Linked DNA regions of Homo sapiens. The protein of the gene in region 2 interacts with the protein of the main gene of each other region in a pairwise test. Each region holds a gene or a part of one and is shown on either strand. Other genes may lie near its edges. The genes, in order: PAX5, TLK2, GMCL1 and FRMD6.

The links.
Region 1: the proteins of TLK2 (region 2) and PAX5 interact in binary tests that used the Homo sapiens proteins (3 or more experiments, as listed by UniProt).
Region 3: the proteins of TLK2 (region 2) and GMCL1 interact in binary tests that used the Homo sapiens proteins (3 or more experiments, as listed by UniProt).
Region 4: the proteins of TLK2 (region 2) and FRMD6 interact in binary tests that used the Homo sapiens proteins (3 or more experiments, as listed by UniProt).

Annotation. Positions count from the first base shown.
Region 1 is NC_000009.12:37,024,060-37,031,494, reverse strand, and holds part of PAX5 (paired box protein Pax-5), read left to right. Parts: intron 1-161; exon of another isoform or gene 162-2,575; intron 2,576-3,407; exon of another isoform or gene 3,408-3,550; intron 3,551-7,435. UniProt on the Homo sapiens protein: Transcription factor that plays an essential role in commitment of lymphoid progenitors to the B-lymphocyte lineage. Fulfills a dual role by repressing B-lineage inappropriate genes and simultaneously activating B-lineage-specific genes.
Region 2 is NC_000017.11:62,474,684-62,482,167, forward strand, and holds the start of TLK2 (serine/threonine-protein kinase tousled-like 2), read left to right. Parts: upstream 1-4,141; 5' UTR 4,142-4,607; intron 4,608-4,760; exon of another isoform or gene 4,761-4,794; coding exon of another isoform or gene 4,795-4,930; intron 4,931-6,084; exon of another isoform or gene 6,085-6,104; intron 6,105-6,437; coding exon of another isoform or gene 6,438-6,442; coding exon 6,443-6,523; intron 6,524-7,484. UniProt on the Homo sapiens protein: Serine/threonine-protein kinase involved in the process of chromatin assembly and probably also DNA replication, transcription, repair, and chromosome segregation. Phosphorylates the chromatin assembly factors ASF1A and ASF1B.
Region 3 is NC_000002.12:69,839,368-69,846,802, forward strand, and holds part of GMCL1 (germ cell-less protein-like 1), read left to right. Parts: intron 1-89; coding exon 90-186; intron 187-1,574; coding exon 1,575-1,672; intron 1,673-2,115; exon of another isoform or gene 2,116-2,185; intron 2,186-3,720; exon of another isoform or gene 3,721-3,748; coding exon of another isoform or gene 3,749-3,781; coding exon 3,782-3,894; intron 3,895-4,763; coding exon 4,764-4,829; intron 4,830-5,217; exon of another isoform or gene 5,218-5,500; intron 5,501-7,435. UniProt on the Homo sapiens protein: Possible function in spermatogenesis. Enhances the degradation of MDM2 and increases the amount of p53 probably by modulating the nucleocytoplasmic transport.
Region 4 is NC_000014.9:51,717,663-51,725,097, reverse strand, and holds part of FRMD6 (FERM domain-containing protein 6), read right to left. Parts: intron 5,044-7,435; coding exon 4,708-5,043; intron 3,150-4,707; coding exon 3,018-3,149; intron 1-3,017.

The DNA.
Region 1 (7,435 bases), on a different chromosome or scaffold from region 2:
CTTGAGTCCTTAGATCCGGGCAGACCTGGATGGATTGAGTACTTTCCCACTGGGCATTGACATCCAGTCTCACAGTTCTGGAATGAGCCTGGAATGGAGTGATAGATATTAATAACCCCCATCCATGAAGCTTCATCTCACAGAGCCTAAGAAGTCACATCTCAGGATTTGTTCTCTGTATTAAACAAACGGGGAAGCAGAGGCTTTAGAAGGGGCTGCCTGTCTCAAGTCTTTGGGAGAGAGAGTAGTCCCAGCGCCCCTGGCCTGCAGGACATGCTGGTAATGATAACACACCCCGACTAAGGTGATTTTACATGATTCTTGAAAAACCTGGTTAAATTCTCATTTTTTCTCCATCCTCTTCAAGAACTCCTGAAAACAGGGACAGGTCAAGTAGAGCAGACTCCTGATCCAGGGGCAGGAATCATGCAGGAATCTGCTGTGCCTCCACTTGCTGTATAATTTCAGGTCAATTTCTTTCCCTCTGATACTTAATTTTTTTTATTTTTTAAAAATGAAGTTTAGACAGAACTCAGTGGGTTGAGACAGCCATGCTGGCAGCATCCCTGATCTTTCCAGAACTGAGCAACCAGTCTGAGCCCTATTGGGCCTCACTTTGTCAGAAGCAAGAACAGGGAAATGGGCTGGACTTGGGTTGAGAGAGTCGATGTCAGGCTACTAGAACACTGTAGCAGCCCCCACATCCTGAAGCCACGGTAATGCAGTGCGCTGGGAGGCGTGGAAAGGGAAGCCGGGAGGGGGTGTGTCCCCAGTGAAACGAGGTCTCTGGCTTCTCACACATTATTCTCAATGGGCTGTCTTTCAGTACTAAAACTTTCAAAGGCAATTCGGTTCACATAAATTGAGTTTCTTCCTGGATAGTTTCCTTTCGCGGTCTCCTGCCCCCAGCGCCTAGCACAGGGCCCGGCCCAAAGCCCTGTTACTGGGAGAAAGAAAGCGCATCACTGTAGATCAGAGTGAGGCCCGACTGCGTTGAGAGCCGCGGTGAGAGCTGCTAGTCTCGCTCTCCTGGACCCAGGCTGCGGCTCGTGGGCGTTCAGAGACAGGACTGAGGCGCAGTAGCCCGGCTCCACCATGGACTTGCTGTGCAGCCTCGAGCTAGTCACGTAACCTCTCTGGGCTGTCGTTTGGTGACCTGTAAGGCTGGGCTAGGTGGTCACGGTATGAGGTCCGGTCGCGCCTTTTGGGGTTGGAACTTCCCAGAGGCCGCCCGCTCGGGCGGTGATGAATCACCCCTATCCAGAGGGAAACTCCTTCCCCCAAGAACGCCGAGAGTTGCGGGAAGGGGCTGCTCTGGGTGCACAGGTAAGACGGGTCCTGTGTGTGCCACGCAGCAGAACACTGTCCCGAAGCCGAACACCTACTGTGTGAAAGGGAGAATCGGCGCTACTCCTGCTCGGGCCGTGCCCCGGGGATTCTATGCAAGCCTCACGGGTATCCGAAGGAAAACCTGCGTGTGCGGGCATATTCCAGCCGAGTTCTTCGATTTGGCAGCATCGCCCCTCCCCCACCATCCCGAGAGCGGCTCTGGAGAGGCGCTTTTGAGAAAGGTTTCCAGCCCGCAGCCTTTCTTCTACCCCAGACTTGCTGTGTGACTTTGGACAAGTCGTATCCTGCCTCTGGGCCTCGGGTTCTGCACCCGTGAAATGGAGAAAGCATAGCTTCGAGGCCCTTTTAGCTCTAAGAATCTAGAGAACCTGGGTTTGTAGGCCTGAGCTCAGCAAGAGAGGCTGGGGGTGGGGGTGTCACTGGCTGCATCCCTCAGGGCGTCCCGCACTCCCGCCTCTCCAGTAGGTGTGCAAGCCGCCATGTTGAGTCTGGGCCGAGGATCTGAATTCTGGTTATTTCCGACCCACTGGGCGCCATCGGGTGAAGCCAGTGCAGGAAGTCTATTCCATCCCAGTCCCTCTCTGCTGTTGCGATCTTCCTGCTCCAAGGCCGGGGGTGAAAGGGGAAGATCCGGACAGGCGGGGTTCCAGACAAAGAAGAGATAACGCCGCCACTCCACCCCGGCGCGCACTGCAGCCTCCTGGGTCCCCAGAGTCCCGCCTGGGGCCGTTTTCCGCAGCTGTGCCCTGGTGGGGGGTGGGGACGGGTGTCAGCGCCGGAAACTTGTCTACTGGTCAGGGACAGCTGGGTGTGGAACAGGGACAGAAGGTGGGCCCAAGAGTCGACCCCAGTGTAGGAGTTTGAGAAGTAGAGCATGCGTAGAGAGAAGGCAGAGGAAGGGAAACCGAGGCAGAGAATAAAACAAGAGGATAACCCAGGAATCCTCTCATGATCAGCCTGTACTCTTCCTTACAAGCCCAGTCCTGGAGCAGGCATCTCAAAGCCCTTGTTTTGTGGATTTATGTTTAATATTAGCGGATCATCACTCATGAAATAGAAATTGAGTCTTCGGACCACTCCCATGAGTTGCTGGGGCAAGGGAATCCTCAGCGTCGTTCTTGAGCCAGGGCCCAGATGGCTCACAGAACTATAGCTTCTTGGGTGAAGAATGACTGTCACACGCTTCCTTTTCAAGGTCCAGTTTCTTTGATTGTTGTCTCAGAGCCTTAAAACCCACAAAGAAGCGGACTCGCTAGTCAAAGATCCCTTGTGTAGCAAGAGAGTTCTGCTACAAATCCATCCATTTTGTCTACATAGGGACAGGAACTTCCCCTGTAGAGGGAAGGTCAGTTTCCCATCAACTGGAAGCTGCCGCATTGCAGCGCGCCTGGCCGCTTTGCTTGACCCTTGCAGATAGAATGCGCCTGTCCACCCGCCCGCTTCAGGGACCCTTATTAGCCCTGGACGCGACTTGGCTCATTCGGTTCTCAAGAAGCCTTGAGCCGGGTGCGGAATTTCTCCGGTGGACAGAAGCGCAACACCAGCTCCCAAAGCCTCTGGCAGTTCCTGATCTGAGGCAGGAAAGAGGGCCAGCCACTCTGCTTGGGCAACCTGGCCCAAAGCCTTAGCCCCTCCACCCAGGTGCGCCCTGGTGCGCCCCAGTTACTAACTTTAAAGGAGTGTGAGATATTCTCCCCCTTCCCCCAACGTCTCTGCCTTTCGTTAATGCAGCAATGAGGGCCCTGCAGGTGGAGTGAGGGAGGAGGGTGGACGACGAGGAGCCAGTGGTGGTTTAGTAGGTACTTGATAAAATTAGGAAATAAAATTAGGAAATATTTCCGTGGAAGGAGCCTTCAGTAAAATCTAGTTAACCCCACTCTGCCCATTTTACAGAAGAGGAAAGTGAGGTCAGAACTGGCAGATATGCACACACTCCGATGCACACAATCCGATCCCATCACGAGCCTGATGGTACAGGATCCCTACTGCGCTCCTTGTCTTCCTCCAACATACATTTTTTGTTTTTTGGTTTTTTTGGAGACTTCCCCCATTCTCACCCTTCAATCGACTGCTCTCAAGCCTTGAGAGCGTCCCAGGATCCCAGCATCGCTGTGGGGAGGTCCAGCCCGCGTGGGACCCGCAGCGGGACTCTCCAGGCACTGCGTGGGCCCCTTTCCCCTCCCCACAGCCGCGATCCACTAGGCCTTAGTCCAGCGCGTTTGTCAATGAACGTGGCGCCGCCGCCTGGGCCCCGCCCCCCATTCTCTCCCATTGCCCAGGTGTCCGCTAATCAGGCGGAGCCTGTGGGCTGCTTAGCCAATGGGGCGGTGTTTCGGGCCAGGGCCGGCTGACGCCACTCTGATTGGCTTGGTGGAGCGTGATTGGCAGGTTAGCCCCCGCCCCGCCCCCGCCCGGAGGGAGCTGAGCCCCGGGCGGCGCTGTCCACACGCAGCGGGTCCTGAAAGCGGCTCCGGGGCGGCGCGGTGGCGCACTGTGCGCGCCGAGCAGGCGGAGGGCTAGCGACGGCGGCGGCGGCGGCAACGCAGGCAGTCAGAGCCGACTGCGGCTCCATCTCAGCCCCGGCAGCCCCGGCGGCCTTGGTGGCTGGGACCCTCTGCTCTCTCCTCTGTTCCTCACTCCACGCCTGGGGCAGGCACGGCGGCCGTCCCGGAAGAGGCAGCGGAAAGACAGTGGAATCAGACCCACGAGGGAGGGCGGCGGGGCTCGAAGAGTTGGTTGGCACGAGGTAGACACCCCGGCGAGGAAGAGTCCGTCGCTGGTGTCCCCGTTCCTGGTCCCAGCGATGGGCGAGCAGCGGGGGCCGCGGGAACTTTGAAGGCAGCGGGTCTCAGTGTTGGAGGGCTGCACGCTCCCGGGGACTCCGGAGTCGCGGCCCCAGCGTCAGGGGCGGAAGCATCTCCAAACCCGCCAGGACCCCGCGCTGCCGGAGAGGAAGTTCTTTGCAACTTCGTCCGAGACGTCGGAGAGCCAGTTGGAGAGAGGCGGAGGGGGCAAGTCCGAGCCCCAGAGACTCGGAGAAGCAGAGAAAGAAAGGATCTGGCGGAGACCGAGGGGTCGAGGAGGGACCTCAGAAGCATCGAGGCCGCGGAACCAGCCTGGCAGCCCCCGGGTCTCTCCGCCCCCTGAGTGAAGTCAAGGGCCGATTGTTCCGGCGGCCTCCTCAAAGCTGCTCCTTCCTGGGGCCGGGGGCTGCTGGCTGTCCCGGAGGCGGGCCCCTACGCTATGCCCCCGAAGCCGCGGGCGCCTTGGCCGCAGCTACCCCGGGCTGGGCCCGGAGCTGCTGCTTGAGCCAGCCAGGGAGGGAAGCCAGCCGGAGTTGGGCACCCGCTCCTAGCCCGGGTGCGCTAGCACCATTTCCCGCCTCTCCGCGCAGCTCCGGGCGGTCTCCAGCAGGGAGGCTCTGAGAGAGACCCCGAAGCTCCAGCAGTGTTTTCTGAGCCCAGCTCGCACAGTGCCTGGCCTGGTGGCGAGGCTCCCTATCCGCCCTGGGCAGCCCCTTGGCGCCGGGAGGCGGCGGCGTGGGCCGGCCTGCAGTCTGGAGCGCCCCGATGGAAATACACTGTAAGCACGACCCGTTTGCATCCATGCATAGTAAGTAGGCGGCGAGCTCGCTTCTCTCACTCTCCCGCCGGGACCGGGTTGGGGGTGCCGGACCGTGGGTCAGGTACTAAGGCCGGAAGGATCTCGGACCTCTGCAGCCGCGCAGCTAACTTTGCAAAGTGCAGGGATCCCAGGCAGGGGACCTGAAACAACGCACTTGGCCGCCCGGGCTGAGGCACCTGGGAATCCCGCCTCCGGCAACGCGTAGCTTGGGCAGCGAGCTGCAGCCTTTCAAGGCTCCGGCGGCGACATTTCAGCTCTTTCGGAGAACCCTGGCTTGGACCCGTAGAGGGCTCCGGGCCAGGCCAGTTGGAGGGCAGTAAGTTGTAGGGAGAGGCCAGTCAGAGTCTCAGACAGCGCCCCACACCCCTACTCCGATGGCGCCTTTTTCAGCCATGGGGCTGATCCAGACTGGCGCTTGGAGGGATAGTGGGGCCCTGACCCGTGTCTGTATGTGTGGAGGAAGAGGTTGAGAGCTAAGCGAGGACACCGGGGCTAGGGCTCCAAAGGCGTCCTGGAGTTGAGGAGGGGGCTTTGAAAAATCAAGGAAGTAGCGGTTTCTGAGTTCAGCTTCTGCTTAGGAGCCGGCCAGTTCATACAGAGACCCTTAAAGACCCCATTGGGTCCTTCTCTGCAGGACGCCTTTTCTCATGGCTTCTCCCCTTTAAAAAAAGAGGATAAGAAACGAAAAAGAAAGAAAGAAAGAGGAAGCCAATTAGTTACCACGCAGGCACCCCCGCCTCTGAAAGACGCAGCGTGTGTAGGAGACGGGAAGGGTCATTTAGGGCGAGGGCAAGGCCGGCCTGGCTGCCTGGCCCGCAGGGATCCTGCCAATTCACCCATTACCACAGCCTCCTGTGAGATGAGCGCTCCTCTCACGGTGAGTTAACGCCGGATTAGATTCGGAGATTTCAAGGAAATTCCAAGTGGAACGAATCGCGTTTCCTTTCTGTTTGCTGCAGAGCCAGGCTGGAGGAAGGTGACAGGCTTCGGCAGCCTCGGCTCGGGTGCCGCTCGGGGTCTCTGCGGGCTTCAGGTCAGGGAGTTGCTCCCGGGCTAGGAGCCGTCCCCATGCCTGGTCCTCCCACCCCGCTCCCCCCCATCCCAACAGCCTGGGATCCAGCTTTCCTAGCCGCAGGTCCCCTATTTAACAAAGGCAGCAGAGACCCGGCTGGAGTGAAGGTGAGCTTCCCGGGGCGAGCATGTCCGTGTCTGCCACGCAGTGCTGAGTGGCCTGGCAAGCAGGGGAAAGCTTGTGTAGGCAGCCAGGGCTGGCTGCGGGCAGGTCAGTTTCTCTTTGTGTCAATTTTCTGAGTCTGAAGTAATCCACCAAAGCGGTGGGGAGCTCTGTGCAGAGGAGCCCCCTGTTCTGGTCCCAGCCCAAACGATTCCTCAAGGTTTGGGGCCTGCGCCCAACCGGTTTCCAGTCTGTGGTGACCCCAGTGCCCTCCACAGCCTTTTCTGCCTCGGACTCCAGCCTGGCTCTGGGGAGGACCTGATCTTGCAATGTAAGCCCAAAACAAACCAGTTAGGGCAATGCTCTGAGAGGTGAGCAAGCCCTTGGCTCAGCCAAGGAGCAACTGTGGGGACAGATGGGGAGCACCAGCCCCTGCACTTCTCTCCTCACTGGTGGAAATCCACAGGCCCTCACTGTGTCCTTCCGCCCAGCGCTCGGTGGCCCAGAGGTTGTGCCCTAGCCCTTGGGGAGATAGCATCAGACCTGGTGGTCTCTCGGCTGAGCATCAGTGTGGAGAAGGCGGCTTCTTTCAGGTGCAGGTTAGCCAACCGCTAATGTCTGTGCCTCCTTGTCCGGCCTTCAATCGCCCCCTCCGTGGGAAGTGCTCCCTCCCATTTTCAATCTCCCTGGCAGCACAGTGGGGGCTGGGCCCCAGCCAGTCTAGCTTCCAGAGCAGGTGCAAGACCTTGGCTTCTCTGGAAGCACTCTCGGTTCTGAGGCCCAAAGCTGTTTTCTTGCACAATGTAGGCCTGCTCTGGGGCCCCAACTTGCTAGCAATGGGGAGTGGGGGGTACAGTAGATCCTGGAAGGTGGCTGAGGTAGTAGAGGCTCAGATCAAGTCCCACTTCGTCACCTTCCTCCTGGCCCAGTCAGTTTCTTCTTCCTGTTACCGCTCCCTGCCTCCGTCCCCCTACCACTGCTTCCCCCCACCACTGCTTCAGAGCCGGATAGCTTCTTTGGAGAGGAGCAGGGACTTCCAGGAAATGGGCTTCTGAGTTTGGAGGAGTCCCCACCCACTATTCCAGGCTCATCATTTTCATCAGCACGATAACCTCCTGCTCTCTTCCTGAGCGGTTCCCCTAGGTATCTTTACCAGTTATAAAACACTCATAGCCAGGGTCCTACCTGACGGTGGCCTAAACCTTCAGCTTCACCCATTTTGCAGAATATGATATTGAGGTCAGAGAGACAAAAGGACTGACTCAAGAAGTTCACATTGGCACAGCT
Region 2 (7,484 bases):
AGGTGTTGAGCCACCGCGCCCGGCCTAGAAGACGGAAGTTTGCATGTTGCCCAGGCTGGTCTCCAACTCCTGGGGTCAAGTGATCCACTGCCTCGGCCTCCCAATGTGCTGGGATTACAGGCGTGAGCCACTACACCTGGCCTCTTTTTTTTTTTTTTTTAAGAGACAAGGTTTCAATATATTGCCCAAGCTAGACTCAAACTCCTGGCCTCAAGCAACCCTCCTGCCTCAGCCTCCTAAGAGGCTGGAACTACAGACAGGTGCACGCCACTATGCTTGGCTCCTGTCTATGGCGGAGGTTGCAGTGAGCAGAGATTGTGCCATTGCACTCCATCCTGGGCGATAGAGCCAAACTTTGTCTCAAACAACAACAAAATCCCCTTAGAGCTCTTTCCTAGCAACCAAACGTTTTTCCATTTTGTTAGGAATTGGAAGAAGAGAGGAAATAACTGGCTAAGTAACTACTCTATATCAAGCACGGTTACAAGGCATTTTCCAACATTATTTCAATTTTAATGAAAGCTGCTCATGAAATTAGGTTTACTGGGTCACAGTTTTCAGATGAGGAACCTGGGACAGGTGAAGGGACAGAATTGGAACCCAGTTCTGTCATACCACAGATGCCCCACCTGTTCTACACTGGCCTGTCAAGAATAACAATAATAATAATTATTATTTTAGAGAGAGGCCTGCTGTGTTGGCCAGGTGGACTGCAGTGGCACGACCTCGGCTCACTGCAACCTTCGACTCCCAGGTTCAAGCGATTCTCCTGCCTCAGTCTCCCGACTAGCTGGGATTACAGGTGCCCACCACCACGCTCAGCTAATTTAAAAAATATTTTTAGCAGAGATGGGGTTTCACCATGTTGGCCAGGCTGGATCTCAATCTCCTGACCTCGTGATCCACCCGCCTTGGCCTCCCAAAGTGCTAGGATTACAGGTGTGAGCCACCGCGCCAGGCCCAATGATTATTTTAAATAATAATTATTTTTTTTGAGACGGAGTCTCGCTCTGTCACCCAGGCTGGAGTGCAGTGGTGTGATCTCGGCTCACTGCAACCTCCGCCTCCTGGGTTCAAGCGATTCTCCTGCCTTAGCCTCCCGAGTAGCTGGGACTACAGGCGCCCGCCACCACGCCTGGCTAATTTTTTTGTATTTTTAGTAGAGACAGGGTTTCACCGTGTTAAGACAGGATGGTCTCGACCTCCTGACCTCATGATCCACCGCCTCGGCCTCCCAAAATGCTGTGATTACAGGCGTGAGCCACCGCTCCCAGCCTTAAATAATTACTTTTATTTTATTATCATTATTTTTGAGACAGGGTCTCACTCTGTCACCCAGAATGGAGTGCAGTGGTGCCATCTTGGCTCACTGCAACCTCCGCCTCCTGGGTTCAAGCAAAATTCTCCTGTCTCAACCTCCCAAGTAGCTGAAAGTACAGGTACGTACCACTATGCCGAGCTAATTTTTGTATTTTTAGTAGACACGGGGTTTCACCATGTTGGCCAGGCTGGTCTCGAACTGCTGGCCTCAAGTGATCCACCCGCCTTAGCCTCCCAGAGTGCTGGGATTACAGGCGTGAGCTACCGCACCCAGCCTACTTTGAAAAATGGGATCATCGGCCAGGCGCGGTGGCTCATGCCTGTAATCACAGCACTTTGGGAGGCCGAGGTGGGCGGATCACGAGGTCAGGAGTTCGAGACCAGTCTGGCCAACATAGTGAAACTCCGTCTCTACTAAAAACACAAAAAATAAGCCAGGTGTGGTGGTGTGCGCCTGTAATCCCAGCTAGTTGGGAGGCTGAGGCGGGAGAATCGCATGAACCCAGGAGAAAGAGGTTGCAGCAAGCTGAGATTGTGCCACTGCACTTCAGCCCGGGCGACAGTGTGAGACTCTGTCACCAAAATAAAATAAAATAAAATAAAATAAAAAGATCCTCTAGCCCAAATCCCTCCATCACAGAAGCAGTTGGAGAAGTTTGAAAAGGTTAGATGATAGGCCCATGTGGCTTGTCTGTGGAAAGAGCTAGGCTGCAAGACACCTCTGACTCCATTGAGTGCTTTCTCTTACTCTCCTTTCCCGATTTAAGACATTAAATCATTTAAGACAGTGTCATTTGGTCGAGTGCGGTGGCTAACGCTTGAAATCCCAGCACTTTGGGAGGCTGAGATGGGCGGATCAACTGAGGTCAGGAATTCGAGACCAACGTGGCCAACATGGCAAAACCTCGATTCTACCAAAAAAGAAAAAAAAAAAAAATTAGCCGGGCCTGGTAGCGCGTGCCTGTAATCCCGGCTACTCAGGAGGCTGAGGCAGGGAGAACTGCTTGAACCCGGGTGGCAGAGGTTGCAGTGAGCCAAGATCGCACCACTGCACTCCAGCCTGGGCGACAGAGCGAGACTCTGTCTCAAAAAAAAAAAATTTTTTTTAAAAAGACAGTGTCATTTGATGGAGTTGCTTTCTTGATCGTTGGCTGCAATTAAAGACCTAGCCTCACTGTCTTTTGTGTTGCCTTGGACCGGCTCTTAGGTTCTACCGCCCTAACAGGCAGTGGAGGCTGGCCTCGAGTGGTAGTCCTCCATCTTGCCCTCTTTTCCTACCCTCTACCCCCAACCCGCGAGCTGCTCTCCTGTCTTCTTCCAACACTGTTCTCTTTGGGAATATGCATGTCCAACTTCCCAAGCAGTCTGGGATCTGGAGTAAGATGACTCTTGGTTTAATGAAGTTTTTCCACAGTGCTTGCATGTGCCCCAAGGGTTTGGAAGGTTGGAGAACTAACAAAAAGCAAAGAGCCATCCTGTGTCGTTTCGGCAGGTCTGTGTTCTGTTAAAATATGGAAGAATTAAGAGAAGAACGAAGAAATAAGGGCAGAAACTCCACTGGGGAGTACTTGTCTAACCCTGAAAAAGTTCAAGGCTGTTGTTCAAGGTCTGAATTTTTCCCTTGAGATTTGCTTGTAGTCCTTAAAGTCATCTTCAGACATCTGATCAAGGCAGCATCCGCGGAAAATTATAAGGTGGGTGGCTGCACTGGAGCCTGTCCTGGCTCAGGGGCGCCGGTGAAGAGTGATTTTTTTCCCTTGGCCTTGGGGGATCAGAGGGGGTGCCCTCTGCTATGCAGGAAGCCCTCCTTGCCCGCTAGATAGTTCTCATTCCTCAGGAGATACTCTGTGAGGGGCCGGCGTGTTTTCTCCATCTTGGCACTTACCCTCAGACCCTCCTAAGTACCCGGGAGGGCCGTGTTTTTCATCGGAGGTTGAAATGGAACCTCCCCCTGGGTGCCCGGGGAGAGTACCTTGGGGGCAGCGCCCCTCCTTCCGGAGGGCAGCATCCCCGCGGGGGCGGGGGCTCGGCTTTGATCCCAGGGCACCTTTTGTCCCTGGAGACGCTCTGCCAGCCAGGTACGTGGAGGGAGTGCAGCCCGCCCTCCCGGGCGACGCGCGGGGCTGGGGCGGGCCGGCGGCTCCGGGGAGTGGCGGCCGGGAGCCCGCGAACGCGGGTGGGCGCCGTCGCCTCACTAACCGGGCGCCTCCGGGAAGTCCGGGCGGGGTCCGCCGCTCACACATAGGATTAGCGTCCTCTAAACTCCATCCCTGGGAAAAGCCGCCGCACTTCTCACCCAAACTCGCGGAGCCGAGGGGCTGGGCAGGGGTTGGGCGGGCGCGGGGGCCGGCGAGGCGGATCCGGGAACGGGTGGACCCGGGCGGCCAAGCCCCTTCAGCGCCGGCCCAACCGCCCCGGCCCGGGCCAGTCCAGCGGGGCGGGGGCCGGCGACACAAAGGCGGCGGCGGGTCCTCCGGGCCTCCGGCCTCGGGCAGTCGCAGGGCGCCCCGGGCCGCCGGACCTCCCCTCGCGTTGCGGCCCGTCAGCCGGCGCCGCCCGTCGCCCGCCCTCAGCCGTCCGGCGAGGCGCGGCTTCCTCCGCCGGCGCGGGGTCCCCTGGTTAACCCCTGCCCGGCAGCGCGGCCGCTGATTGGAGAAGGCGGGGCGCCGGGGCAGCGGGGACCCCCCCCCACCTTCCTCGTCCCCTCCCCCTGCTCCCCCACTGTCGGCGCTTCCCCCACCCCCCCAGGACCCCCCCCGCCTCCCAGCCGTGCAAATCTCGCGAGGAAACACGCGGTTTCACTAGTGTGTTTACACCGATCACTACTAATCCGGACCGAACCGATCCGGATTAAGGGGCCGGAGGCGGGTCCTGGGCACCAGCGGTTCCGACCCCCCCGCCCTCCGCGCCGCACCCGAGTGGCCCCCAGCCGAGCGGGCCCCCACCTCCTGGCCCGGCCTGGGCCCTCCTGCGCCTCCCTTGGCCTTTGTCCGGCGCCAGGAGGCCGGTCCCGCGCCCCCCGCGGCCGCCCGGGCCCGGGCCCGCGTCGGGCGCCTGGCTCTGTACGCGAGCCCGGGGATCTGCGGCCTTCGTGCCCCCCCTCCCCCGCCCGCCCTCTCGTGGAGCCCGGCGCCGGCGGCGGCTGCCCGGGCGGGGGGTTGCGGCGCTCAGGAGAGGCCCCGGCTCCGCCCCGGGCCTGCCCAGGGGGAGAGCGGAGCGGTCCGCAGCCGGGTCGGGTCGGGGCCCCTCCCGGGAGGAGCGTGGAGCGGCGGCGGCGGCGGCGGCAGGTGAGAGGCTGAGCCCCGGGCGGGGGAGGACTCCAGGCCTGGGGCATTAACCGTCCTGGGGACCCCTTTGGCCTGAGGAGCCTGCGACCTGGGCCCAGCTCGGGGCCGGCTCCGGACCGCAGCTCCTGGGCGCTGAGGCGGGAGGGGCTCCCTGAGGGCTGCGGGTCGCTGAGGGGCCGGGCAGAAGATGGGGGAGGCCCAGGCGGCCCCGGCCTGGGATTGGGGCCGGCGGCCGGAGGAGAGACGGGGGCCCCCAGGCAGCTGGAGGCCTCGGCAGCCTCCCGGGCGCCCCCGAGAGCCGGCCCTCCCTTCCTCCGTGACAGGTGGGCCTGGAGTTGGGGAAAGTTTGGAGCCGGCGAGGGGCGCCGGGACCAGGCCCCATCGCTCCTGCTTCCCGGCTGTGGGCTGCAGGGAGGATCCCAGTCCAAGGCCCCGCTGGAATTAGACGGAGTGGCTATTTCCTTAACATGAGTTGACATTAAACGGAATAACCGCCGGGGCGTCATTTTCCGGGCCGGGCCTGGGGATGGAGGTTTGGGAAGTGTTGCGAGAGACCTTGGGGTTTGGGAGAGACTGCAACCTTTGCCATTCCGACCTCGATTAGGGCAGGGCAAGACGCGAGGAAGGCCACGGGGGAAACTCATTCTCCCAGTCTCTTTTTTTTCCTTCTTTTTCTTTTTGTAAAGATGCATTTCAACCTTTCTGAGAATTTCCTAATTCTCTCTCTAACCTGCACTTGCATGTGTGGGTGAAACTTTAATTTGTCACCTTTTCATTCCCCTTTGCCCCAGGCTCTCAATCCAGGAAGGGAAATGAAACTGAAGGACTTGTAAGGGGGTTGTTACTGGAGATTGTAGAGTTGTTGGATTGCAGAGGAGAATGTTCGATTCATCTTTTCAGTAACTTTAAAATCACACCAACCATTCCAACTACTTAATAATGTGTTCGAAGGGGTTCTATGTAATATGTTTCTTTTCCACTGTTAATATTAAAGAGAGGTTTTAAATGGGTCGTGTAGGAGTTGGTCTCTTGCAAAGGATGAACATATTTGCTGAAAGTAGCCTGTGCATTAATTGGTTATGGAAGTTTAAAAATGGTGTCCTCCTGCCCCTCCCTGCTTGGAAGAAGGGCTAAAAGCAGATGTCCAGAATCAAGAGAAAACTACTGCAGGGAGTGGTCAGAAAAAGATTTTTTAAAGGGATTGTTATGGAGCTATATTAATTTACTGAGTGAATGGAGGTGGATGGTTTTACCGTGGGCTCTCTATTAAATTTAAAATAATTCCTTTTCTCATGAGCTACTGTGAGCTCTTCAGAGACAGGAGCTGTATAATAGTGATTTTGCAGTTATTTGTAGCTTCTGATTCATCCTATATTCTTTTGAAATTATTGTCAATGATTCATATTTTTAGTTTAAGGACTACTTCCTGAGTGGGAAATAAATATCTGAAGATACTTAGCTAGATTAAGGCTGATAGAAGGAATTTTCTTTTTGCAGGCTAGTTCTTGTTTTGTTCTTTCCCCTGTGCTCAACTTTTACAGAAATTATATGAAGGGTTTGAGGGGTTTATTTTTGCTGTTAAAATCAAATCAGAACTAGGGAAGAAAAAGTGGCTGTCATAGAAGAGGACTTCTGAGCTGCTTTAAAACTTTTCAATATATTACTGTTTGATGCAGCACATAGTAGTCTACCACTTGTATGCTATATTTACTTGAGATTTACCTGCATTTGATCTTTCAGTGAAATAATTACTGTGAGTTTTGTTCTACAGAAAATTGCCTCCTCACATTTTAGTGTTTATGGTTTCACAGCCTACTTTTTCTTTTTCAGCAGAAATGATGGAAGAATTGCATAGCCTGGACCCACGACGGCAGGAATTATTGGAGGCCAGGTTTACTGGAGTAGGTGTTAGTAAGGTGAGTAAAATGATGATCATGAACACTATTCATATTCTAATTTAAACACATTTTTTAAATGATTAAGAGCAATTTGGGTAGGCCCTTCTGATAGTTTGCAGGGGAGAAGATTTGGGTCTTAATTTCAGTGAACTTTTAGATCCTACTGGTCATTCCAGTAGTCATTTAACATAGTAGGTTTGAAAATGTTCTATATGGGAATATATGTTTCTTCTTCCTTTCTGGTATAGGAGAGGTTTCTCATGGTTCTTGTTACAAGGAAACTAACAGGATGTGTGTATAGATTCTATGCCATATTTTGTTAAAACTTGTCAGCCATTCAGAAAGAAAATTACAAGGCATTGCATAGCTTTGTTACATTGGACTTTGGAGGTAGTTACATGGTAGAGTATTGAAAAATTGGCCTCTGTGAAGTCTGCAGACTCTTTACTGGTTGCACCCCCAGACTGGTTTGTTGCTCTTCTCATTCTTCCTTCTTAGTTTTTATTTTTGTTGCAGGAGCATAATATTAGATTAGGCCCCCATTAACGGGCACGTATGAAGTTAAGCAATGTTATAGTTTCCTATGCATGTTTATGTACCCACTGGTCCACCCCTCTGCTCTCATAGGATGATTTTACAATGTGTAAAATGTTTGATTTTAATACAGTATGCAAAGTATATTTACGATATTTTATTTAAAAGCTTTATTGGTCCAAGATCATATTACTTGGGCTTGAGATGTGTGAACGTATGAGCTACTGAATTTTTTTTTTTGAGACAGAGTTTTCCTCTTGTCGCCGAGGCTGGAGTGCAATGGCGTGATCTCGGCTCACTGCAGCCTCCACCTCCTGGGTTCAGGTGATGATTCTCCTGCCTCAGCCTCCTGAGTAGCTGGGATTACAGGTGCCCGCCACCACGCCCAGCTGATTTTTGTATTTTTAGTAGAGATGGGGTTTCACCATGTTGGCCAGGCTGGTCT
Region 3 (7,435 bases), on a different chromosome or scaffold from region 2:
TAGAATAGTTGCTTAGAATTAGAAATGGGCAAATAATTTGGAAGACACAGAAAGTACTTGATAATCGTTGACTTTTTTTTTTGTTTAAGTCTGGCTACTTTTCTAGTATGTTCAGTGGTTCTTGGAAAGAATCCAGCATGAATATTATTGAACTGGAGATTCCTGACCAGAACATTGATGTAGAAGGTAACTACCACAATAATTACTATTATGCAACAATCGTAAAAACATAATCTTATTCTTCTGGTAGAAGATAAATAATTCCTTCCAGCCTTGTAGTCTAGAAAACTCCTTTTATCACCTCAAGGTGATAATTTGATGTTGATTTACACCATAGTTTATCAGTTCTGTCCATCTTATCACTAATCTGTTTTGTCATTTGGGCCTTATCAGTTTGTTTACTTATCTTTGTAAATATGCCCACCTGGGATATGGAAGATGTAGGATGGAGGAAGGAAAAGTATGACCATTTTTTTTTTTAATTACATAGAAAATCTGATAAATAATACTGATTATTCCCTATGTATGAAGATGTTTTCTGGGAACAATAAATAAAAATATTGTTTTAGAGCTAAAAGAATCCTTAGTTGAGGAAGCTGAGGCTCAGAGGAGTTAAGGGACTTATTTTGGATCTCAGAGCAGTTTAGTGAGCCTGTGTCAGACTACAGCTCTCCTCATTCCCATTCCAGTGCTCTTGCTGCTCCCCTCATTGGTGGTCCACATGGAAGTACCTGGTGCGATACAAAGGCAAAGAAATACTTTAGTTAAGAATATTTACAGCCTGTAATCCCAGCACGTTGGGAGGCCAAGGTGGGTGGATCACAAGGTCAGGAGATCGAGACCATCCTGGCTAACATGGTGAACCCCATCTCTACTTAAAAAAATACAAAAAATTAGCCAAGCGTGGTGGCAGGCACCTGTAGTCCCAGCTATTTGGGAGGCTGAGGCAGGAGAATGGCGTGAACCCGGGAGGCAGAGCTTGCAGTGAGCCGAGATCGCGCCACTGCACTCCAGCCTGGGCGACAGAGCGAGACTCCATCTCAAAAAAAAAAAAAAGAATATTTACAAAGCAAACCATGTGGGACATTCATAACAGTGGCAGTGGAGGAAGGATGAACAGGCATAGATCACTGTGGGGGCTGGGAATGAGTGTGGCATGGACAGGACTCAGGAGCTGTACCACATTTCTCAGTGGTGGAGTGCTGAAAGCAGCCGGGTTAAGATTATCTTTGAGTCTGCGTATTTGTACTTAACGATTGGTCTACTGAGGAGTATCTTATACAACTTCTTGCAAGGCATCTTGGTTGTGACCACTGATGTCAAGATTACATGTTAGAAGAATGCAGCTAGATTTGGTAGAATAAACAGAAATTTATAACCTTGTTATTAAATTAACAGTGTCAACCAGTAACCATTACTAGCGTTTTAATTAGAGATACTTCTGTTATCCTTTTATGTGCATGCCACATTTAGACGGATGTCTTTGTGTGTGAAGACAGTCGTTGTTGTTATTTGTATAACACTTGTAATAGATATAAATATTATTTCATCCTACATGTGTACCTTGCTTTCAGCACTGCAGGTTGCATTTGGTTCACTGTATCGAGATGATGTCTTGATAAAGCCCAGTCGAGTTGTTGCCATTTTGGCAGCAGCTTGTTTGCTGCAGTTGGTAAGTATGCACGTTATTCGAAGAAAGGTTCAGAATAATAATCTTTGTCTCAAAGTGTGTACTCCAAAAACAAAAATAAAGCTTAGCTTTTTTGGAGTTTTTAAATAAAAATGAAATGTATAAATATGACATTTATTATAAATCATTTAAAATGCCTAACCAAAAGCAATTTATTACAACCGAGGGAGTCATGATGTCTGCATAAAATGAATGCAGGCCATTTCTGTGTAGATATCTTAGTATGACTATAATGTGGAAAAAACGTACTTGTCTAAGGTCATTTACAGATTTCATTAATGACTTGACTATTAAGCAGATGGCTTATGATTACCAATTAATTTCATTCATGGGTTCAAATAAACATGCATGCCTACTATTTAAATTTCTCTTAATTTTGAAAGAATTGTGTATAAATCACATATATGTATTTTAATCTACTGGCAGAATGACAGATTTGTTCATTGAAGAGAAGTGTGTTGAGCACTGTGTCAAACTAGACACAGAAAGCCAAAGGTAACTTAAGACGTAATCCTTACTTTCAAAAAGTTCACAACATAGTATGTATGTGTGGAGAGGGGAGGGAGGGTTGATATACAAACCCAAAGGTAAAGTAAGAGCTGTTCAATATTATAGGTATGATAATAAACATCCTGTAGCATTTAGTGAATGGATAAAGAAGGGAGTGGTCAGTTCATCCTGGTGGTGTCACATACGAAAGTTACATTTTCACACAGAGTCTTGAAAGTGTGTTTGTATTGCAAAGTAAGAAGAGGGGAAGGAAGAGCATTTCAGACAGAGAGAACAGAGTAAACTAAGATCTAGTGATGTGAAATAATGGAGGATTCAAGACTCTAACAGAAACATGGCTCCCACATAAACATAAGAAGGATTGCAGAAGAGGGGGGCAGAAGCCAGATCATGAAAATACATCTATACATTGCTAAGAAGTTTAGCATACACAGTACCTTTGGAATATTTTAATCAGGGGAAAGACGAAGTTATGTTTTAGAAAGAATACTTCAGTAACAATGTGACAGATGAATTGAAGGAAAGATGAGTACAGCATTAGAGACAAAAACTTGTTGCATTCGTCCAAGGGAGGAAAGTAGGGTAGTAGCAATAAGCTTGGAGGGGAAAAAGTGGATACCAGAGAGATTCAGGGATAATCCACTGGACTTGGTGATAGACTAAATGTTAAGAGGAAAGGGGAGGAGTCTAGAATGATTTCCAGGTAAGTTTAAAATCCTAATGGAGTCAATGTTTTATTTTAATCTTAAAAAATTGTTTACTTTTATGTGGTATTTTTGTACTGATTTATTTGAAGTATTAATAGCTTGCTAAATATCCTTGGTTGAGATCATTTGATTTTCAAAATGTTTTGATCCTTTCAATACTTACTTCCAATAAGTATACTTTATTATCTAACTCTGGTCCTTTTGGTTTTGTTCTAAATTCACCTTCTGCTTACTTTTATGATTTACTAACTCTTTAACTTAATATACCTGCATGATGAATGTATTTCAGAAATTTGAATGAAAAGTAGTATTCTTCCCATATATTAAAGTTAGTTCACTTAAAACCTATATAAACATTTTAGGTTAAAACTTTAATGTTAATCATTTGAAATAATAATATACTTGTTTTAAGTCTATCTCTTAGATATTGTAGTTATTTTAAACTTGATCACTTTCTGCTAATGCATACTGTTAGTTTAGTCCCATCACATGGTTAACTGACTATGTAGACTTCTTAATTTAAAAAGAAATGGCAAAACAGACAAAATGCTGCTAAAGAAATTTGCAAAGGTCTCAGACAGGGGAAGAATAGAAAAGAAAAAGAATAGCAGTATTCATTCTCTACCTTACTACTCCCCCCCACCTTCCATTTTCAAATTCCAAGTATTTAGTTGAATACTTGCTGAACTTTTTTCAGTATTTTTATTGGACTTGTTAAAAAAAAAAAAAAAAACTTAGGTTTGCTGCACTTAATGAGTTTTCTTTCTTTTCTTTCTTCTTTTTTTTTTTCTTTTACTTTTTAATATGTAAAAGCTGTCAGAGCTAATTTTTCCCACGTGAAATGGGCCTTTCCAGTGCTTATTTATATTTACAGGACGGTTTAATACAGCAGTGTGGTGAGACAATGAAGGAAACAGTTAATGTGAAAACTGTATGTGGCTATTACACATCAGCAGGGACCTATGGATTAGATTCTGTAAAGAAAAAGTGAGTTGCCTTTCTTGTTTTTCTTCCTATCCCACTTTTAGGAATTTGGTTGCTTTAGTTTCTTAAGAGAATGTATAGCTATAAGAAAGAAAGAATTAAGGAAAAATAGGATAGGGGGATGGAATTTTATTAAATAAAAAGCCCCTTTTAACTTTTGGACTAATTAGTAAATTCCTCAAAAGTGTCGTCTTTGTAAGTGACCATAGGTGGGTTATATACATGCTTATAAAAACCATGGTCACCTTGGTCGGGTGTGGTGGCTAACACCTGTAATCCCAGTGGTTTGGGAGGCCAAGGCAGAAAGATCACTTGGGCCCAGGAGATTAAGACCAGCCTGAGCAATGTAGGGAGACCCCATCTCTACAAAAAATTTTAAAAATTAGCCAGGCATGGTGGCATGCACCTGTGGTCCCCACTATTCTGGAGGCTGAGGTCAGAGGATTCTTTGAGCCCAGGAGGTTCAAGACTGCAATGAGCCGTGATCATGCCACTGCACTTTATAGTATATTTTCTATTAAAATTGTTTAAGAAGTAGGCCTGATAGACTGACAGTCCTTCTAACTCTTGAGAGTTGCAGTACCTGTTTTGAGATTTTAAAGAAGGTTATACTAGTATGCAGACCCCTTAATAAACTATTTAACACAAACTCAAAATGAAGTTTTAAAACTGGAAATGCTCTCGTTAATATAAAGGAAATATTCTCTTAATAATATCCACTGACAAAAATAATACTAAATTTCCTATTGTTAAGCTAAAAGTTTTGAGCATGTTCTGGCAAGATTAATCTGATTTTATTTTAACTATAAGTCCTACTTAATAAATTGTAAATACATGGCATATAATGTAATAATTATATATTTTAATTTCAGGTGCCTTGAATGGCTTCTAAACAATTTGATGACTCACCAGAATGTTGAACTTTTTAAAGAACTCAGGTATTTGAATTTCAAGTAACTTCATAATTAGTCATCCTAAAATATTGTTTATCATTTGTTAAAGTACATAACATTTTTGTAGAACACAAAAATATATTATGAAAAAGCAAACAATTTAATGAAAGGGCTTGACTACATCCATAAACTGAAGAAATGCTGTGCAAACTTATTTCTTTGTTGTGAATAATATAATGGATATTATGTCTACTGTTTTAACCGAAAAATGCATTACTGTTATAAGACTATAGAAAAGTTTCAGGTTTTGCCAGGCTGTTAGAGAATTTAAAAGTTATATTTTAAAAATCATCTTTTTTATTGAGAAATAAGTTTGAAGAAACTGTTTTGGCCTTTTTTTTTTTTTTTTTTTACCTTCAAAAACTTTTCATGTTGATCCGTTTTCTCACTAGGATGAATTCTCTGATGTGGAGTAACAAATGTGTGTCTCCTATAAATGTATATTTTTCCATCTCTGATTATTTCACACCTTGAATCCAAATCTGTAGTCCCAGCTACTCTGGAGGCTGAGGCAGGAGGATTGCTTAAGCCATAGAGGTCAAGGTTGCAGTGAGCTGTGATTGCGACACTGCTCTCCAGCCTCAGTGAGAGTGAGACAAGTTACCATGGTTCTTCACCGTCACCTCCTGGTACAAGGTCTTCTGAACCAGGTCAAGGTATTCCCACTCCTGATGAGAGAAGTCTGTGGCCATGTCCCTGAATGTTACAAATTCACAGGCCATGGTTTTAGACAAGCAAAAGCCAATCAGTCCTCAGGGTTTCTCTACCAGAAAAGCGATTTGGGAAAACCTAGACCTATAATCCCAGCACTTTGGGAGGCCAAGGTGGGAGGATTGCTTGAATCTAGGAGTTCGAGATCATCCTGGGCAACATAGTGACATCCCCTCTCTTTGAGAAAATATCAATCTTCCTTTAAAAAAAACCTGTTAGCGCCACACAGGGTCCCATGCAGGCTTCAGGCTGGGGCTGCAGAGGCTCCTGCAGTCAACTGCGCCGCCTTCGTCCTCAAGCGGGACCTGGTCAGACGCAGCACAGCGCAGAGCCAGAGGTCCTGGAGATGGAGCCAGAGGTCCAAGATTTCTCCATCACCTGTGGACTATGTAGTCCAAGCTGGAATAATAGGACCGCAGTCACCCGTGAGAAATGGATTCCAGGGTTCTAAAAACCTACAAGAAATATGGCGGTGACAATGAGGACTGCCCACCCTGCCCACCACCCAAGCTGCAGAGCAGCCTTTCTTTTTTAAAGAGATGGGGGCCTTGGTATGTTGCCCAGGCTAGACTCAAACTCCTGAGCTCAAGCAGTCCTCCTGCCTCAGCCTCCAAGTAGCAGGGATTATAGGCACATACCACTGCACCCAGCTTAGTTTGGCTTTTTGGATTAAGTACGCATATTATCCATTTATTCCTGCAGCAAGTACTTCCTGACTGTCCTTTATATGTAAAGATACTCTATTAGGGGCTGTGAAGAATGCAGAGATGATTTTGTCATGGTCTCTTGCTGTCAAAGAGCTTATTTGTAGTAATGGGACTAAGATATTTGTGATGGGTCTGAGAAAATCTGGCTAGCAGTTAACTTTTGAAGGCTGGTTGGCATTACAGTCATTTTCTGGCTTGCATTTCCCTGACAGCAGTGCTTCTGAGACAAGGATACAAATGTGTCCGAGAGTATGTGACATTCTGATGGAAATGTACAAAACCAAAGTCAAACATTACATAGCTTCCCAGAATGTGAATTTTACTGATTTTTTTTTTTTTTTTGGTGGGGAGGAGGTGGGGAAGAGGTAAATATTTTTATGTTTAAATACATTATGGAATAGAGGGAATTCAAATTTCCTTGAACTCTCAAGATACAATTTATAGAAATGTTACTTTTTATGGTTAGACCACCTCCTAGATTATGGGGTTTTTTTCCTTTCTTTTGCCTTTACGAGATAATTTGGTAGAGAAGTGTGAGAGACTTTCATCACCTGGTGATGTCAAGGCATAAATAAATCACCGTAGAATGTTTGATTTGAAAATCGTTAGAAACACTTTAATACAGTCAACCCTGCTTATCCATGGGTTCTCCATTTGTGGATTCTACCAACTGCCGATTGAAAAGATTTGGGGGAAAAACTATAAAAAATAATAACAAAAAAACCCAATGTAGTATGACAACTATTGCATAACATTTACATTGTATTAGGTACTGTAAGAACACCTAGAGATGATTTAAAGTATATGAGAGGATGTGCATAGGTTACATGCAAATACTATGCCATTTTATATAAGGGACTTGAGCATAGAGGATTTTGGTATTTGTAGGAGGTTCTGAAACCAATCCCCCACAGATACAGGGGGATGACTCTAATTTCTCACTGAACTTTTTGAAAAAGGAGCAGGATCCTCTTAAAAACCCACGTGCTCTCTTGGCTTTTTATGGCTCAAAGGAAAGAAAGAACAAAGGAAAAGCAAAACAAAACAAATAACTGGTGATATCATTTTCACTCTAAATAACTAGCACGTTTCTTGATCTTATTGTCTTGAATAGTACTAAAACCATAGTTTATGACTAAGCAATTCTCTTAAGCCTAGAGGTTAAAGATTACT
Region 4 (7,435 bases), on a different chromosome or scaffold from region 2:
GGTGATGGGACACTTGGCACATACCTCCTGCAGCAGATCCCCCTGGGAGGAGACAAACTGGGAGGCCACAGTGAAAATTCAGTACTGGGTCTTTGAGAACAACAGAGCACCTAACCTAAGCACTTTAGCACTCGGTGGAAACCCGCCAAAATTTCAGAAGCAGAAATCCAGGGCTGACATTTCCCTATGTGACTGGCATATGAGTGAAGCACTGAGTAGAAACATGTCTCAGAAGGTAAAATTACCAATAAGAACTAGAGGTGTAAGTGAACACCGCTGAAATTTTTCTTGCCAATGGATGAAGCAAGTGTACTACAGGTCAAGCCCTAGATCCATAAGGCCAAATGGCTTCTTAAAAAAAAAAAACAAAAAACCCTTTAAGTAATGTGATTCTTATTCAACTACTGCTAGTAGTCTACAGAATGACTTGTGTTCTATCCCTTAACTCTTTAGAAACATCTCATAATGACTCAGTGTCTAGCATATGCCATAAACATATTAAGTATTCAATAATTAGTTCAATTGAAACATGAAATATGAAGACATTACTGGTTTACAAGTAGACACTTTAAAAACTCAGGGGATACTCATGTTTTAGGAGTTAGTACAAATGGCTTTAGTAGAGGATCTAGAACGATCTTTATCTTCTAAAGAGCATTAAACCTTTAAACAAGTTGTCATGGTTCCTTTTCGATTTCCTGGTAAATGTGCCCTCAGCTATCATGCCTGTAAAGAGTATTCTCCAAACTCAGACCCACCACTGGAAAAGTCAACACCGAGCTGATGCTCAAAACACTTAACCAACTCCTATCAAACTCTGTAAGAATGAAAGACAGTGTGGTATACTTCATCACTACTCAATCTTAGCTGAGTGTTTTTTTTTTTTTTAAAGATATGGAACACTTCACAAATTTGCATGTCATCCTTGCCCAGGGGCCATGCTAATCTTCTCTGTATCACTGCAACTTTAGTGTATGTGCTGCCAAGGCGAGTACTTAGCTGAATGTTTTATAAGCAACGTTTAAATGCTCAAATTAATAGAGAATTTAGAAAACTAAGATGATGTAAGAAAGAAAATAAAATCATCTATATCTATAACCCTAACATCCAAATAAAAGGCTATTAATAGTTTTACGTTTTTAAAATACACAAATAAATATTCTTGTTTTTAATTAGATGACATTTTATATAATTTTTACTATTTACCTTAACTATCCTTCTTATGTTATTAAATATTGTTTGAAAATCTCGAATTTAATGGTTATATACCATTGTATGAATAAGGTATAATTTAACCACTTGTTCTTTTTCTTTTTTTTTTTTTTGACAGAGTCTCACTCTTTTGCCCAGGATGGAGTACAGTGACACAATCTTGGGTCACTGCAACCTCTGCCTCCTGGGTTCAAGCGATTCTCCTGCCCCAGCCACCCATGTAGCTGGGATTACAGGCCTGCAGCTAATTTTTTTTTTTTGCATTTTAGTAGAGATGGGGTTTCACCACGTTGGCCAGGCTGATCTCCAACTCCTGACCTCAGGTGATCCACCCACCTTGGCCTCCCAAAGTGCTGGGATTATACGTGTGAGCCACCACACCTGGCCTTACCACTCATTCTTTAATTATTTTTATAACATTTCAACAAACTTTTTTTATATATAAATCTTCTTAAACAGCCAGGCTTTTTACTTAAATTTTATTTCTATTTAAAATTAACAGTCTTATAAAAATTAAATGCAGAAATATATAAACGCAAAGTCCAGGTCAGCTTCCCTCATACCTCCCTTCCCAAAGGCACTGCGGCATACACAGTTTTTAGACCATTTCCTTTCCACAAGCATAAACACACAGAGCTATATACATGGACCTATAATGTGCATATAATTGTGAATTTAAATTAAAATGTAATTATAGGAGAAAATTCAATATCATAAAGTACATGGGCAAAAAGGGGCAAAGTTTGGTATATGAACTCTAAGCATGTTTAGGGTAAGCAGCCTAATGAGTCAGTGTTGGTCAGAGAGATGATTCCCTGCAGCTACAGGCAGGTCTGGGAAGCCAGGGTTCTGTTGGGTTAGCGAACAGAATTCTGAAATAAAAGATGCCTCCTGCTCTTGAAGACTAAGTGCCAGGATGGTAGTGACTGTGTATCGGTCTGGTTCCTCTCTGATTTCCAGTGCCTGGCACCTGGAGGAGGAGGCTCGATGAACATCAGGAGCTGTGGATTTGCCAGAGCAGGGACAGGCTACCTCAGTCAGGCCCTTCATTCAATCAAAGCTGGAAGGGGCCATTTCAATAGTGCTGGTTCCTGAGGCATATTTCTCTAAAGAACAGACTGATTCATGATGTGTGACAAAAGCAGTTAGATCTGACTGATGTCTATAAACAAAACTGATACTGCTGCCGTTTTTTAAAGATAGTATCTTACATGTAACAGAAATATATATGATGTATTATATAACTATAGGGAATGCATGTTTTCTACAGGAATTCATACGAATATGGAATTTAAGAGTGTCTTTTTAGGTCAACCCATTTTGACACTTTTCCTCCCAGACTCCTCTACCAGTATAACACAGTGGGAAAAACAAAAAACAAAAAAACCCCAAAAACCTGGAGGCCTACTTCTGTTTCTAGCCATGTTGGATTTGTCCTCTTTGAACTATAGGTTAACTTATCTGTAAAAAGGAGGCCAGACTGAAGGGGTCTACAAGGCCTTCCAGATACATTATATGATTCTCGACACAGCATAACATAAAGAGAACCCTACTGTTCAACTACCTTTTGTCCAAAGCATGGAGCACAAAATGCTAATTCCCAGTCCTGGGTGTTTCTCCTCTTCCCTGCCTTCCACAGAAGGCACAGGATCCTGCAGTTTACAACACTGACCTGAAGAGACTCTTAGTGCAGTCCAGTCTCTGGTCTAGGGCCCCCAGCTCACCCCTTCTATTTTCTGAGGCATGTGTTTTTCAGTCCTGGATAACCTGCTACCAAGGAAGAATAACTTCCCGTAAGAGCTCACCAGAGTGTCCATTCAGCTTCCGCGACATGAGCATGTCCTCTGTGATGTAGATGCACATGTCTGGGCTGACTTCCAGAGACTCTTCATTCATCTGCTCCAGATCCCGGGGGTCATCAACCAACATCTCTATTTCTGACACAGAAGAAGGAAAAGATAGTTAATGACAAAAAGGGAAATGACCATCATAATATGCAACCATATTTTGAGGGTGGCTATGTAATTATTCCTATTTGAAAATAAATTTGCTAATGAGACTCCAATAGGAAACTCCAGGGACCATTTTCAACAGGTACTACTTGTTTACTCCTTCCCTCCTTCCCTCCTTCCTTCCTCCCTTCCTTCCTCCCTCCCTTCCTCCCTCCCTTCCTTCCTTCCTTCCTTCCTTCCTGGGACCATTTTCAACAGGTACTACTTGTTCCTTCCTTCCTTCCTTCCCTCCCTCCCTCCCTCTCTTTCTTTCTCAATTTCTTTCTTTTTGAGACGAAGTCTCACTCTGTCACCAGGCTGGAGTGGTGTGATCTCCGCTCACTGCAACCTCCGCCTCCTGGGTTCAAGCGATTCTCCTGCCTCAGCCTCCCGAGTAGCTGGGACTGAAGACGCGCGCCACTACGCCCATCCAATTTTTGTATTTTTAGCAGAGATGAGGTTTCATCATGTTGGCCAGAATGGCCTTGATCTCTTGACCTCGTGATCCGCCTGCCTTGGCCTCCCAAAGTGCCAGGATTACAAGTGTGAGCCACCATGCCTGGCCTACTTGTTCTTTCTTATCGGATTGCTGCATTACCTATATGTGTTTTAATACTATAATTTGCCCATTATTCTGTATTTTTTAAGAAGAAAAACTATACCACCTTGCTGCAATGACAAAGGACAAACCGAAACTGATGGGCCCTTTGCCTGATACCAAAGCAAGGCTCACTGACACAGGCAGATGACAGTTCACAAAGCCCCCCATGTCCATAGCTGCCTATTCTGAAGGGCACTGAGTGACTTGAGAGCCACACAAATTCTACAGAAACCAAAAAGATGGTCTGCACTTTTCTTTAACAAAGTCTATCTTTTCCGTCAAGCCTGAATGCTACAGCACTTATTTGAGACAGAAAAATAATATAAAAGAGGGACACAAATGTTAAGTTTGGCTAAGATAAGCCATAGGATTCATCTTATCTCCTTAACATGCAGTAAGTTCCTATCAACCAGGTGCTATATTTCTTTTATCCTCCCTATAGTTCTGGTTACATGGGAGGCGCTTCAGAAAAACATTACTAAGTAACTCAATGGCATGGACTCCAATCTTTACTTTGTGGGGAGGGGTCCAGAAGTTCAAGATGTTTCTGTCACTATTACTGCACTCCACTGTGCTGTCCTAACCACTGTTTTATTTAATCTGGGAAGCAGAAATACAGACACAAGGGCAGCAGGACTAATTTCCAATCTACTTCATAGAAACAGCTAAGACTGAGTCTACAACCATCCAGTCTTGTGGCCGCAAAGGATCACAACTAGAGGGATGTTTTGTTCACAGCCAAACACAAGCAACTCAACCAAGTCATTGGGGAAGACAACAAGACACCTCTTCCACTTTATTACTACTGCCTAAAGTTGCTCTCCAGACACCAGTTCTATAGAACCAATGCTTGAAAAAACTGGGAGACTAAACAGAGAGCCAGTGAGGGGACAGTACTGTTACCATCGTCCTGTAAGTCCTCTTCCAGCCGGTCTTTGCCGCCACTCTCCACCCCTGAGGTGTGGGAGCTGCCATGACTGGTCATTGAGCTGCAGGTTTTCAGCTTGCGGTGGATGGCACTGCTGGAGTAGCTGTCTTCTGGCCCCGTGTCCCGGGGCTTGGTGTCTGCCTCAATGCCCGAGGTGTGGGAACTGCTGTGGCTGGCGGTGGAATGACGGGACAGGCGCTTGTGTTTCATGCTGCCCGCACTGCTCCCGCTGGCCCGCGACCGTTTTTCCAGCTGGTCCATGTCGAGGTCCAGGTTGTCACTGATGTAAGATTCCCGGTACTGCTTCTTCTCTACGTGGTGGGGAACACAGTTCATTAACCAAGACAGAAGGAACGGCTGGTGAGCTTAAGTGACTCATCAGGCCAAGAACAAGGATAACTTCAAATTCAGAATCTAGTGATTGGAAAGTAGTAATAATTTAGATAGGAATTTGACTTCAGAAGACTGAAAAATGAATAAAAACCAGTGCAACAGATTTGAGGGGGATATTTAAACTACTTAGTTTTTTGAAAGCTTCAAGCAGTATAAGAAGAGTGGTATTTAAAGTGCAGTTACAGACCACTTCTTGTCTGCAAATTTATTGGTCCATAGTGAAATAAATTCAGTGAGTGATATGAACATTTAGAAACTTCCAGAGCTATGTGACATTGCCATGACAGCCACCAATGTGATTTTGTATTTTGCGAAAGTATCCATAGCATATTAAATATTTTAAAAATCTGGCCCTTTTCTGCAGATAATTTCAGAAGCACTGCTCTAGAAGACTACTTAATAAATACAATTATGCTAATTGCCATTCATTTTATTTGTTCATTTGTTCAATTTGTTCCACTGTTAGCTTAGCTCTAGCTGCTGAATACAATTTAAAATAAAACTATTCTTCTGAGAATTTCTTGTGAATATTCTAAAATTTGGATTTTCATTAATATAAGATTGATTTTCTCCACTTAGGCTGAATTAGTGAGGCTTTATCATCTACTTAGAAAATACCAGTAATCACTACTGGTTTGATGATTTCCAACTCTGACTGGTAAAGCTGTTCTTTGATTTCACATGTCAGTGCTGTTCTTTAACGCAGTCAAACACACAACACTGCAAAGTCTCTTTTATTACATATAAACTAACCATTCCATTAAGGCACAAAGTTACAACCCAGCTGCCAGTTACAACTCAACTGACACAAAAATATTATTCTTGTCTTTCAGGTCAGAAATGTAAAACAAGGAAGAAGTTTAGATTCCTTGCCTTTTTAATACTGGTGAGAAATAATACAATAAAACAATGTTAAAAATGGAGAGTGCATTTGGGGAATGTGAAGTTGATCTGATTTTAGAAACTAGTAGACTAATTGGGTTCTCAGGGGCCTGTTAATGGATTTTAATTGTCTTGTTTCTTGGTTAAGTGAAAATACTTGCATGCCTGATGTCTGAATCCAGCTCGGAAGTATAATCATCACAGGGTCCCTAGAGAGAAAATGAGCAGGAGGAGAAAGAAAAGATGCGCCTTCTAGGATGCAAAATGCAAAAAAAAAATGCTTGGAGAAGGCTATGTGCACATTTCCAGGTTCCAGCCTATTCACATTGTTCTAAGGAACTGGCTGAAACACAAAGGTGAGTATGTGTTGCTACAGAGAAAGCAGGCTGAAACCAGACACCAGAGCTCCACGCACATATCATCACAACAAAAATGCATCCATGTACAACTTGTCAGGGAGCAGACTGGGGCCTAACAATCCCCATCTTCTGAATCAGCAGGTGTGAGATGAAGGTGGACAGCTAAAGCAGTTTGCAAAAATTACTGTAGTTTTTATTCACTGTGGTTTCACAGCAATAGCCATGTGGCCCTTGGATGAGTGGCAAGTGAAGAGAAAAAAGTAAAAGTCTCTAAGTTGTTGGAGTTCCATTGTTCTAAAATAATTAGGAACTGTGGACCTAATAATTTAAAAGCTTTTCTGTATCTTTACATATAGCCTTTTTACTCTCAACTTCCTGATAGGTTCAGAGATCACTATAGTTCCTCTATATTCACTAGTATGCTCACGAGAAGACAAGTACTTGCCAGCCTGTTTTCTACCTATTCCTGTCAACATGTTAGCATGGCCTGGGTGTTCCACATGGCTGGCTTCTCTTCCCTCCCTAGTGCTGTACCAGACCCTTTCCAGACATTTAGGAAGCTTCACACCGTTCAGTTACAAACTGAGAGAAACATTAAATAATTCTGAAATGTTTTCTAAGAAATGTAAAATGCAACCTCTCATCCCCCTAATAATCACTGGTGTCAACAGTGCAGATCATCAACATGCCTGTGCTCTTTTTACTCCCTCTGTTGTAAAAGCCCAGAGACAATGAGGTTTTTCATACGCTACTTTGGAAAATAATGCAGTAAATGTGAATACTTATCCTAGGAATAAGCTCCAGCTGTTGAATAAAGTTAGGCTTTAACATTTTTTTAAATGACGCAAGGCATGTTTTTGTTTCTCTTCTAAACCCTATGGAAAAATCCTTGTGATCATTTTCTACTAAAATGCTAAAATAGTGTTTTAGACAAGGTGACTCTACATAAAATTAAGAAAAACACAGACTCTTTTTATGCTGTTTTTTGCTAAACTAATGCCCAAAAAAGGGCTTTTCATGTTAAAATGATAAAGCCCTTAAATGGGGGTGAGATCTTGGATTCAGGCCA